Regions from separate parts of the Homo sapiens genome. Here region 2 is linked to region 1. Evidence: fine-mapped expression QTL. A gene starts in region 1. The other region holds a variant in brackets. All regions are shown on one strand. Distances are between the middles of the regions.

Region 1 (4,380 bases):
TCGAGTTAACTACACAGTGTCCAACGACAAAAGATAAAGCAATAAGAAAACCTACTTTCAATTGCATATTTATTAGCAGCATTATGGTATAACAGTTAAGAGCTTAAGCTCTGGAGTCAGACTGTCTGGATTCAAATCCTGGTTTTATCTTTTACTAGATGCATGATTTTGGGTAAATATTTGGCCTCTCTGTGTCGCAGTTCCCTCTTCTGTAAAATAGTGACACTACATATTCTCTTAGGGTTCTTTGAGGATTACAGGAGAAGATACACATAGAGCATTCGTACACAGTACTTGGCACATAGTAGATGCTCAATAAAATTAGTTTATTTTTTGAGGCAGGGTCTTGCTGTGTTCCCCACACTGGAGTGCAGTGGCATGATCACGGCTCACTGCATCACTGCAGCCTTGACTTCCTGGGCTCAAGCAATCCTCCCACCTCAGCCTCTTGAGAAGCTGGGACTACAGGTCCACAACACCCGCTCAGCTAGTTGGTTTTTGTTTTTTTAATTTTTTGTTTTTGTGGGTACATAGTAGGTGTATATATTTATGGGACCGGCTAGTTTTTCAATTTTTTGTAGAGACGGAGTCTTGCTCTGTTGCCCAGACTGGTCTTGAACTCCCAGGCTCAAATGATCCTCCTGCCTCAGCCTCCCAAAGAGCTGGGATTGAAGGCATGAGCCACCCCAGCCAAGATGAGCTTTTTAAACAGAGATGCTGGAGAAAATGAAATTATGGCTAAGGTTAAAAAAAAAAATAGCTGAGATCCTTACACAACATCAAAAAGTAAAAAAGTAGGATTTCTCAAGATTTCCCACATTATCTTAGATACCAAGAAAAAAAAAATCGACTGTAGAGGTAGTAATTTGAAGTCCTCAAAAGAAAAATCATGCATGTGGTTATATTCTTTTAAAAGGGGGATAAATAAGAAACTTCATCTACTGACAGTATACAATTATGCAGTACGGCACAGGTGCAGCCAAGCAAAAAGAAAAACATGAAGCAAAATAGGAAGGCACTGCCTTACCTGCTTCTCCGTTTTCGAGGCGGTTTCTCCACTGTGCCAGTCAGTCTGCAGACCAAACAAATAAGACGGTAACTAAAAGTAACATACAAGAAAACATCTCCCGGCGCTACCGTGCCAGTCAAGAACTAAATAGACCACCCTCTGGGACCACAGGCTCGCCAAGCCCAGATCTGACCTTACAAACGCCTCATGCCCTGTTTCCCCTATTTACCAAGACCTAGCATTCCTGGGACTCACCGTTCCCCCAATTCCCCCTGAGCTCAAACCTTCCTGGTCCCTCACCCCATCCTCGACCCCTGCTCGTCACAGCCCAGCTCCCCAAAATCACCCACCTCCACCTACTCATTGTCTGCCTCGTCACCCCCGCAAGCCCCCCTAGCCTCCCCTTTCCTGTGCCCACCCGTTCCCGACCGTGCACTGCCCCCTCCACGCCCCGCCTCTCCGGGCCCGGCGACCCCCGCATTCCACGGCCCCTCCGGGGGCGCGCCCGCCTTGCCCCTCCCGGCCCCGCGCCGCCAGCCTCACCCCTCGGCGCCCCTTCCCTCACACGCCCCTCTCACCTGGCCTCGAGGAGGCGATCGCGCCCAGCCCGCGCCGCCGCCTGCAGGCGCCCCCAAGGTCCCCCCAGCCTGCACCCCCCGCCCCTCCGGTCTCTGCGCCCCGAATGCTCCACCGCCCCGAGCCGCTGCCCCTGGGCCCGCTCCCTGGCCCCCACCCCATCCCCAACCCCGGCCTCCACCCAGCCCCCGCACCTGGGGGCCAGGCGACTCCGCGGCTGCTGGGGCTGCCGGGCTCCTCTGACCATCCGGCTCCTGCTCCGCCGCGGGAGCTGCTCCGGCGGCCGCAGGGCTCGCTCGGGAAGCTGAGGCGGCGGAGGCTGGAGTAGGCGGAGAGGCGGGAGGAGGGCCTCGCGCCTCTGCCAGGCTTGCCGCGGGGCCCGCCTCCTCCGCGCCTCTCCTCGGCTCCCATTGGCTAGAGCAGTAGTGTGGACGGAAATCTGTCAGTCGATTGGACGCTCGGCCCGTCACATCCCGCGCTGCCCACCCAGAGGTTTGGTTGAGACTGCAGGTGGCGGCGGAGGTGCCTTAGAGATTGCTAGCAGGGCCGGAGGAGACCCTAGCGCCACCATGCGTCTAAAAGTAGGAACTGCACCCCCGGCTCCAGACACCTGCCCCAGGTTCTCCTGGCTCTGCGTCCTGCATACCACACACCTGCTGGCGCCCCTCCACCTCTGCACCACGCCAGGACCGAAAACAAGCCCTGAAATCTCCCAATTTCTTCTAGCAGGTGAGACAGTGAGGCAACTCTCACAAACGTGTTTCCTTTTAAGCCACCTCGAATGCGATCCTTGTCCCTACATCTTGCTGAAATTGTCTCACAGCTCACAGCTACCCCTCAAAAAGGACCCAGCCAGAAAACTCTAAGAATCCACCAAAATAAAGCATGGTTTGGATGCTCAATCCTCTGCAGAAAAGCTCACTAGCTTGGGTGCAGGCTTTTAAGAAAGTAAGATTTTTTTTTAATTACCATGAAAGAAAAATCAGCACTACAAACAGAACCAATGCCATACTAAAAGCAACGTGTTCCATTTTGAAAGGCCTGGACAAATTTGATCCCTGAATGGAAGCTGACCATCCTGATTGTGTGACCATTGCAAGTTCTACACCAATTAATCAATTTTAAAATAAATTGTACTGTATTTTTTGACAAACAGGCATGCAAAACTGCCTTTCATAAGCATAGTTACCCTTCTTCTGCTTTAACAAAGCCATCCTTGAAAATAAGACTCAGCTCATTAACGTATTATAAAATTCTTGAAGGTGGGAAGGCCTCTCTAAATCTCTACTCCTGTGTGAACTTGTTTGGTATATTCTCAGCATCTGTTCAGAGTTGGGAGGAGGCATAAAACTTTCTCTTAAGTCACTTCCATTTTATTAGAACATCTTTTATGCCTCAATAATATGACAGCGTCGAGTAGTACATGTCAACATTGGGGTGGGGAAAATCTCTCATTGATCTCCATAAGCGGCAAAAATTAGGATACTAGTTTTTCACAAAACCAAATGTATTTGGTGTAAAGAGTTGTCTTTTCTTCTGAGATGGTCCTACCTACATCTTTAATGGTAAAATGACTTTCCATTTATGAAGTAATACTGACGGTAAATTGTAGTAGGAATTGAAAAATTGCTTTGAAAAAATGTCAAATCTCTGTTGGTCCCCCAAATTAGTATTTCACGTAATCCTAAAGTCACAGAACCACAAATCACCTCAATCTCAACTAACAGTTTCCACCCATATTATCAAGCCAGAGAGAGGAAAGAACTCGAGAATAATTTGTGTCAGACGAAGGGGGATCATCAACTCACTAGGGAAGTAATCTTGAAATACATTTATTATATTCCTTATTAAAAATCCATTGCCTGCTTTTTAGCATCTTCCATAATTGACCAATCCTCACTGATATATGGCAGATATTGTCAATAAAACAGGACCTATTCATTTCTTACGCCTTCCCAAAAAGGATCCTCGAGTCTTCACATTGTGTCCAAGTGATCTCTGCTTATTTTAACTCTGTAAGACATACAAATCCCATCATTCCAGTCCACACTTAATTCACACTTCCTCTTTATCTTCCCCAATTACTCCATCCTACATCAAACATTTCCTTGTCCAGATGTGTTGTACTTACAAAATCTACACTATGTTAGCAATTATACATTGCCTTGGATTATTCTTCCCAACTACAATGAATTTGAACAAATGGCCTATGAGTATGAGCCCTTAATAAAAGGCAGCTTTGGACCAGATACTGGGTGCTTTGTGTGTGCTATTTTTAATAGTGAGATTAACCCTGCCTGATATTCTCTTATTTTAGACACAGAAACTTAAGATTCAGAAAATTCAATCTGTTCAGGGTCACACAACTACAATAACCAATATTGCTTAAAATAGAGCGCTAAAGAAATACTCTGGTGTGCCCTCTAGGGATTCAAGTTCCAGCTCTCTTGTGCAACGTTAGACAAGTCACCTATCCTCTCTAAGCCTATTTCCTCATCTAGGGGGAGAAAAGTTCTAGAGAAGGATGAACAAGATTTATTAATTTTTTTGAAGTTTGGGCTGGGCACAGTAGCTTATGCTTGTAATCCCAGTGCTTTGGAAGGCCGAGATAGGAGGATCTCTTCAGCCGGGAGTTCAAGACTAGCCCGGGCAACATAGGGAGACCCCATCTCTACCAAGAAAAAAAAAAAATAAAAGGTAATATAGTCATAGACCCATACAGCAAGGGCATCACAAAATAGAGAACATAACAATTTAGCACATATGCTGTATACAGGTTAGTTGCTATTACTGCA
Region 2 (4,380 bases), 290 kb before region 1:
GGTTAATGCTGCAAGGAGGGAAAATCAGGGGCTGGAGCTCAAAGGAGGCAGTGAACCTAGGCAGCGGTTGTTAGGGCAAGTTTCTGGGAGGTCCCTACTTTGACTTGGGGATTGATTTTTCAGATGAGCACTGAGGTTGGGTGCTCCAAGGCTGACAGCCCAGCCCAGGCCAAGGCATGGAAATCCAGGCATTTCTGGGAAGCTGGAGTTTGGGTGAGGGGAGGCTGGCGACGAGGCTGGAGAAATTAGCAAGGATTGGACTGCGTGGGCAGAAGTGGCGGGCAGTGCTCTGTCCCCTGACTGTGGCCACCCGCCCAGGCCCCGTGAAGTTCTGCCGCTTCTCCCCTGATGGCCACCTCTTCGCCAGCGCCTCCTGTGACTGCACTGTCCGCCTGTGGGATGTGGCAAGAGCGAAGTGTCTGCGGGTCCTGAAGGGTGAGTGAGCTGGGAGCCAAGCAGCCAGGCCAGCGTTCCCTTTCAGATGGTGCTGTGTCCTGTGTCACGTCACCTTTCCACCTTCCCCGACCCCGGGCTGGTGCCTGCAGGTCACCAACGGAGTGTGGAGACGGTCAGCTTCAGCCCTGACTCGAGACAGCTGGCATCAGGTGGCTGGGACAAGCGGGTGATGCTCTGGGATGTGCAGGTACGTTGAGGGGCTGGGGCCACCAGTCTGGGATTCAAGGACCAGTTCCAGAGAGGATGTCACCAGTCTTGCCCTCCCAGCTCAAACCCTCCACTGGTTCCCATGGCCCATGCCCACAGCAGGCAACCAAGGCTGCCCCCACCTGGCCACAGCCGCCTCTCCAGGCTTCCTTGCACACAGCAGCCCTCAGGCTTTTTGCACGAGGTCCCCCTTTCCTGGACTGTCAAGGCCAGGTAGCCGGCTGCCCTCTGCTGCCTTCTGCAGCTCAGGGCTCTCTCTAGTCCGGCCAGATGCTGCGCCTCTTAGTTGGGCACCGTGACTCCATCCAGAGCAGCGACTTCTCACCCACGGTGAACTGCCTGGTGAGCCTACCCTCTGCCCTGGGCCCCACCTCAGTGGCCCCATACCCACTTGGAGCTGAGTGGTGGGAAGGGGATGGACTCTGGGTCCCGCCTAGATGCAGAGTGGGTGGAGAGCTGGCTGGGCCAGACTCACAGAAGCTGCCTGCAGGCCACCGGCTCCTGGGACTCCACCGTACACATCTGGGACCTGCGGATGGTGACCCCAGCAGTCTCCCACCAGGCGCTAGAGGGACACAGTGCCAACATCAGCTGCCTGTGCTATTCAGCATCCGGCCTCCTGGTAAGTGGGGTGTCCTGGGTTCCAGGCTGGTCCCTTGCTGGCAGCCAGGCCCTTAAGGGTCCCAGGCCACTTAGGGGCCCAGTGAGCTCACAGGCCCCAAACCCTGGGGATCAGAGCTGTCTGCTGTCCAGGCATCCGGCTCCTGGGACAAGACCATCCACATCTGGAAGCCCACAACCAGCAGCCTGCTTATCCAACTGAAGGGCCATGTCACCTGGGTGAAGAGCATAGCCTTCTCTCCCGACGAGCTGTGGCTGGCCAGCGCCGGCTATTCCCGCATGGTAACCACCCCGGGCCCATCCTGCTCCTACCTACCCATCCTCACCCCACCAGGAGCCCTCAGCACTCACTCCAGAAATGCCCACATCCCCACTTGCCCTAGCTAGGAGGGGGCAAGGGCAGGACCTGGGTGCCAGCCTCTCTTCCTAATGGCCAGCACCAAGGTTAGGGCTGGCCCATTGGTAGTTGCATTGACATTTCCATGACCCAAATGGCATCAGGCAAAAGGGAACTCCTGCTCTGAAATTTCAAATACAGCCTCCAAACAAAACCTACACCAAGAGGTTCAGATGTTTTTTGGGCCGGGGGCGGTGGCTCACACCTGTAATCCCAGCACTTTGGGAGGTGGAGGTAGGTGAATCACCTGAGGTCAGGAGTTCAGGCGAAGACTCATCTCATATTTTGTCTGGGACTTTCCTGGAGGTGGCTTCAGATGCCACAGTGGCCTGGTGAGGCTTCCTGACATGCCCCCCTCCTTTTCCAGGTCAAAGTCTGGGACTGCAACACAGGAAAGTGCCTTGAGACCCTGAAGGTAAGGCACGGCGCTGTGGCACTGAGGAAGCTGTGGACAGCTTCTCCCAAGGCAGGACTTGCCTCGAGCCCCACCTTCTACTCTTAGCAGGGAGTCCTGGATGTGGCCCACACCTGTGCCTTCACCCCAGATGGGAAAATCTTAGTGTCTGGAGCTGCCGATCAGACTAGACGTCAAATATCCCGCACGTCCAAATCACCCAGGGACCCTCAAACCTAACACCAACCACCTTAGATGGTGCCGACCTCACCCGCTCCCCTCAGTGGCGCACAGGCATGCCGCTTCTCCCCACAGACGCAAAGTGACTGTGCTGGCATCCAGCAGATCCCCATGGCCAGGACTCTCCAGGCCCCACCAGAGCAGACAACTGTGGTGGGCAGGACGCTTGCTGGAACCCATCAGACACCTGGTCCCCAAAACCAGACCCACCCACCTCCACCCAATCAGTGG[A/G]AGTGCCAGGAAACAAAGCAGTCTCAGCCAGCTGTGCTTTATTGACAATGCGCCCCTCAGGCCTTGACCGCGTACTTCCGCAGCGGGTACAGCCGCTCCTTCCGCTGCTGCTTCTTGGTCTTCAGGTTCTCCTCGTGCTTGTTGAGCCGGCGGCGCATGGCACGTGTCTTCTTAGGCCGCAGGTCCAGGGGCTTGTACTTCTTGCCCTGGGAGACAGACGGCAGGGTGAATCCAAGGACCCAGGGCTGAGGAGCTACTGCAGCAGCTAAGGGGGCTGGGGAGGGCCATCCAGAGCCACTCAGGAGGAGGCTGCCACCATGGGACTGCCAGCAGGCCACACATGTCACTAACTCAATTAATCCCCCCAAATCTAAGGCTGGTGGGACCATCCTCATTTCATGTAAGTCTGCTGACCTACTGGGCTGAGTGTCCAAGTCTTGGCAAAGCTGTGGAAGAGCCGGGGCTTGCATCTCAGTCAAGTGACTCCCAACTCAGTGCTCCTTCCACTGCCCGATTCCCAGTCACGAGGACAGTCACATGACAACCTAGTACAGGGCACGCAGCACCCACCAAGCCCCGGGGGTAGTTACCATTACCTCGGCTCTGGTTAGCAAGAGCATGCTGGGGGCTGAGGCAGTACTCTGTCCATCTGTATGCAGGGCCCACCAGCTGCTGCCTGTATGAACGTCCAGCCTCAGAGGCCTGGCTGGCCAAGGCCACTTGCCCCACCTGCTTCCGGCTTTGGGGCCCCTGCCCACAGCTGTCACAGAGCCATCATCTGTCTTTCCATCCTTGGCTCCCACTCCTGCCCCACTTGTTCTCCAGCAGGGGGTTCTAGACCATGGCAGCTCTCACTGGTCTCTCCTGTGTTCTGCAAAGGTCCCCTGGGCCCCCTTCAGGACTGGGCCCTGTGCTGGGAGCTGGCTTGGCAAAGGATCTGACCCAGTCCCTGCTCAGGGGTCCCAGCCTAGTGGGGGAAGACTGAACAGGTAACAAGTGGCCCATGGTATGGGGGATTCTGAGGTCACAGGGCCCCAGGCCCCTGCAGGTGGGCAGAGGACTGCAGAAAGATCCTGGACAATGAGGGCCAGCCCTGGAGGGTACTTGGAAGCAGGAAAGTCTTTGTCCTCCCACATCCCTCACTCCTGCTGGCATCGGCTGGGCATTCGTCCTTTTCACATTGGCTAACCCCCTAGAGTTCTGCTGTCCAACAGAGCAGCCACTAGCCACACACGTAGCTGCTGACATTAAAGGTTTACTTTTGCCACACACGTGCTAGTGTCCCCTGAACAGCTAACATAGCCACACTATGGCCCTTCTCATTTTTTTGAGATGAGGCCTCACTATGTTGCCCAGGCTACACTTTAACTCCTGGGCTCAAGCCATCCTCCTGCCTCGGCCTCCCAGTAGCTGGGGTTATAGGCCTGTGGCACTTCATCAGCCATGGCTGCTTTTCCCTTGTGTCAAATCTTCAAGTTATTCAAACACAATTTGGGTAGTGATGTGGAACCATTTTGCAGATGAAATTAAAGACCCTCATCAGGTAACTTTAGGGGAGATTATCCTGGGTAATCCCAGAAGGCCCGATCCAATCAGCTGTAAGTCTTAAGCACAGGGCTGAGGCTCCCTCCAAGTACCCACTGGGAACAGCAGCTTCAACCTGAGCCCTGAGTCCCAGCCAGCCCCCACAATCACCTATGCCCATTCTTCAGAATACATTGGATGCATGTGCACACACCGTCTCCCCCTAGTTTTCTCTGCTTGAACCCCAATAAGATGAATGTTAAGGACAAGACCAGAAAATGGTTATCAAAATTCAAGACTAAGAGGGGGC

The links. PIP is the estimated chance that this variant, and not a neighbour inherited with it, causes the effect. A credible set is the group of variants that fine-mapping cannot tell apart.
Region 2: its variant is the best candidate, but not a certain one, in a credible set for the expression of SCAI in esophagus mucosa (GTEx, PIP 0.58).

Annotation. Positions count from the first base shown.
Region 1 is chr9:125,141,606-125,145,985 of GRCh38, forward strand. It overlaps SCAI (suppressor of cancer cell invasion), which reads right to left and starts at 1,923. Exons shown (of 18, transcript NM_001144877.3): 1 at 1,780-1,923; 2 at 1,028-1,072. The coding sequence starts at 1,832. RefSeq lists a silencer at 1,542-2,041.
Region 2 is chr9:124,855,316-124,859,695 of GRCh38, forward strand. It overlaps WDR38 (WD repeat domain 38), which reads left to right. Exons shown (of 9, transcript NM_001045476.3): 3 at 319-435; 4 at 546-643; 5 at 925-1,005; 6 at 1,154-1,285; 7 at 1,417-1,566; 8 at 2,049-2,096; 9 at 2,187-2,563. The coding sequence ends at 2,315. It overlaps RPL35 (ribosomal protein L35), which reads right to left. Exons shown (of 4, transcript NM_007209.4): 4 at 2,568-2,752. The coding sequence ends at 2,603. Among named protein-coding and RNA genes, the nearest start is that of WDR38, 4.0 kb to the left of the region's middle. RefSeq lists silencers at 450-618, 3,230-3,512 and an enhancer at 4,153-4,380. The variant A/G (reference allele first, on the strand shown) is at 2,547.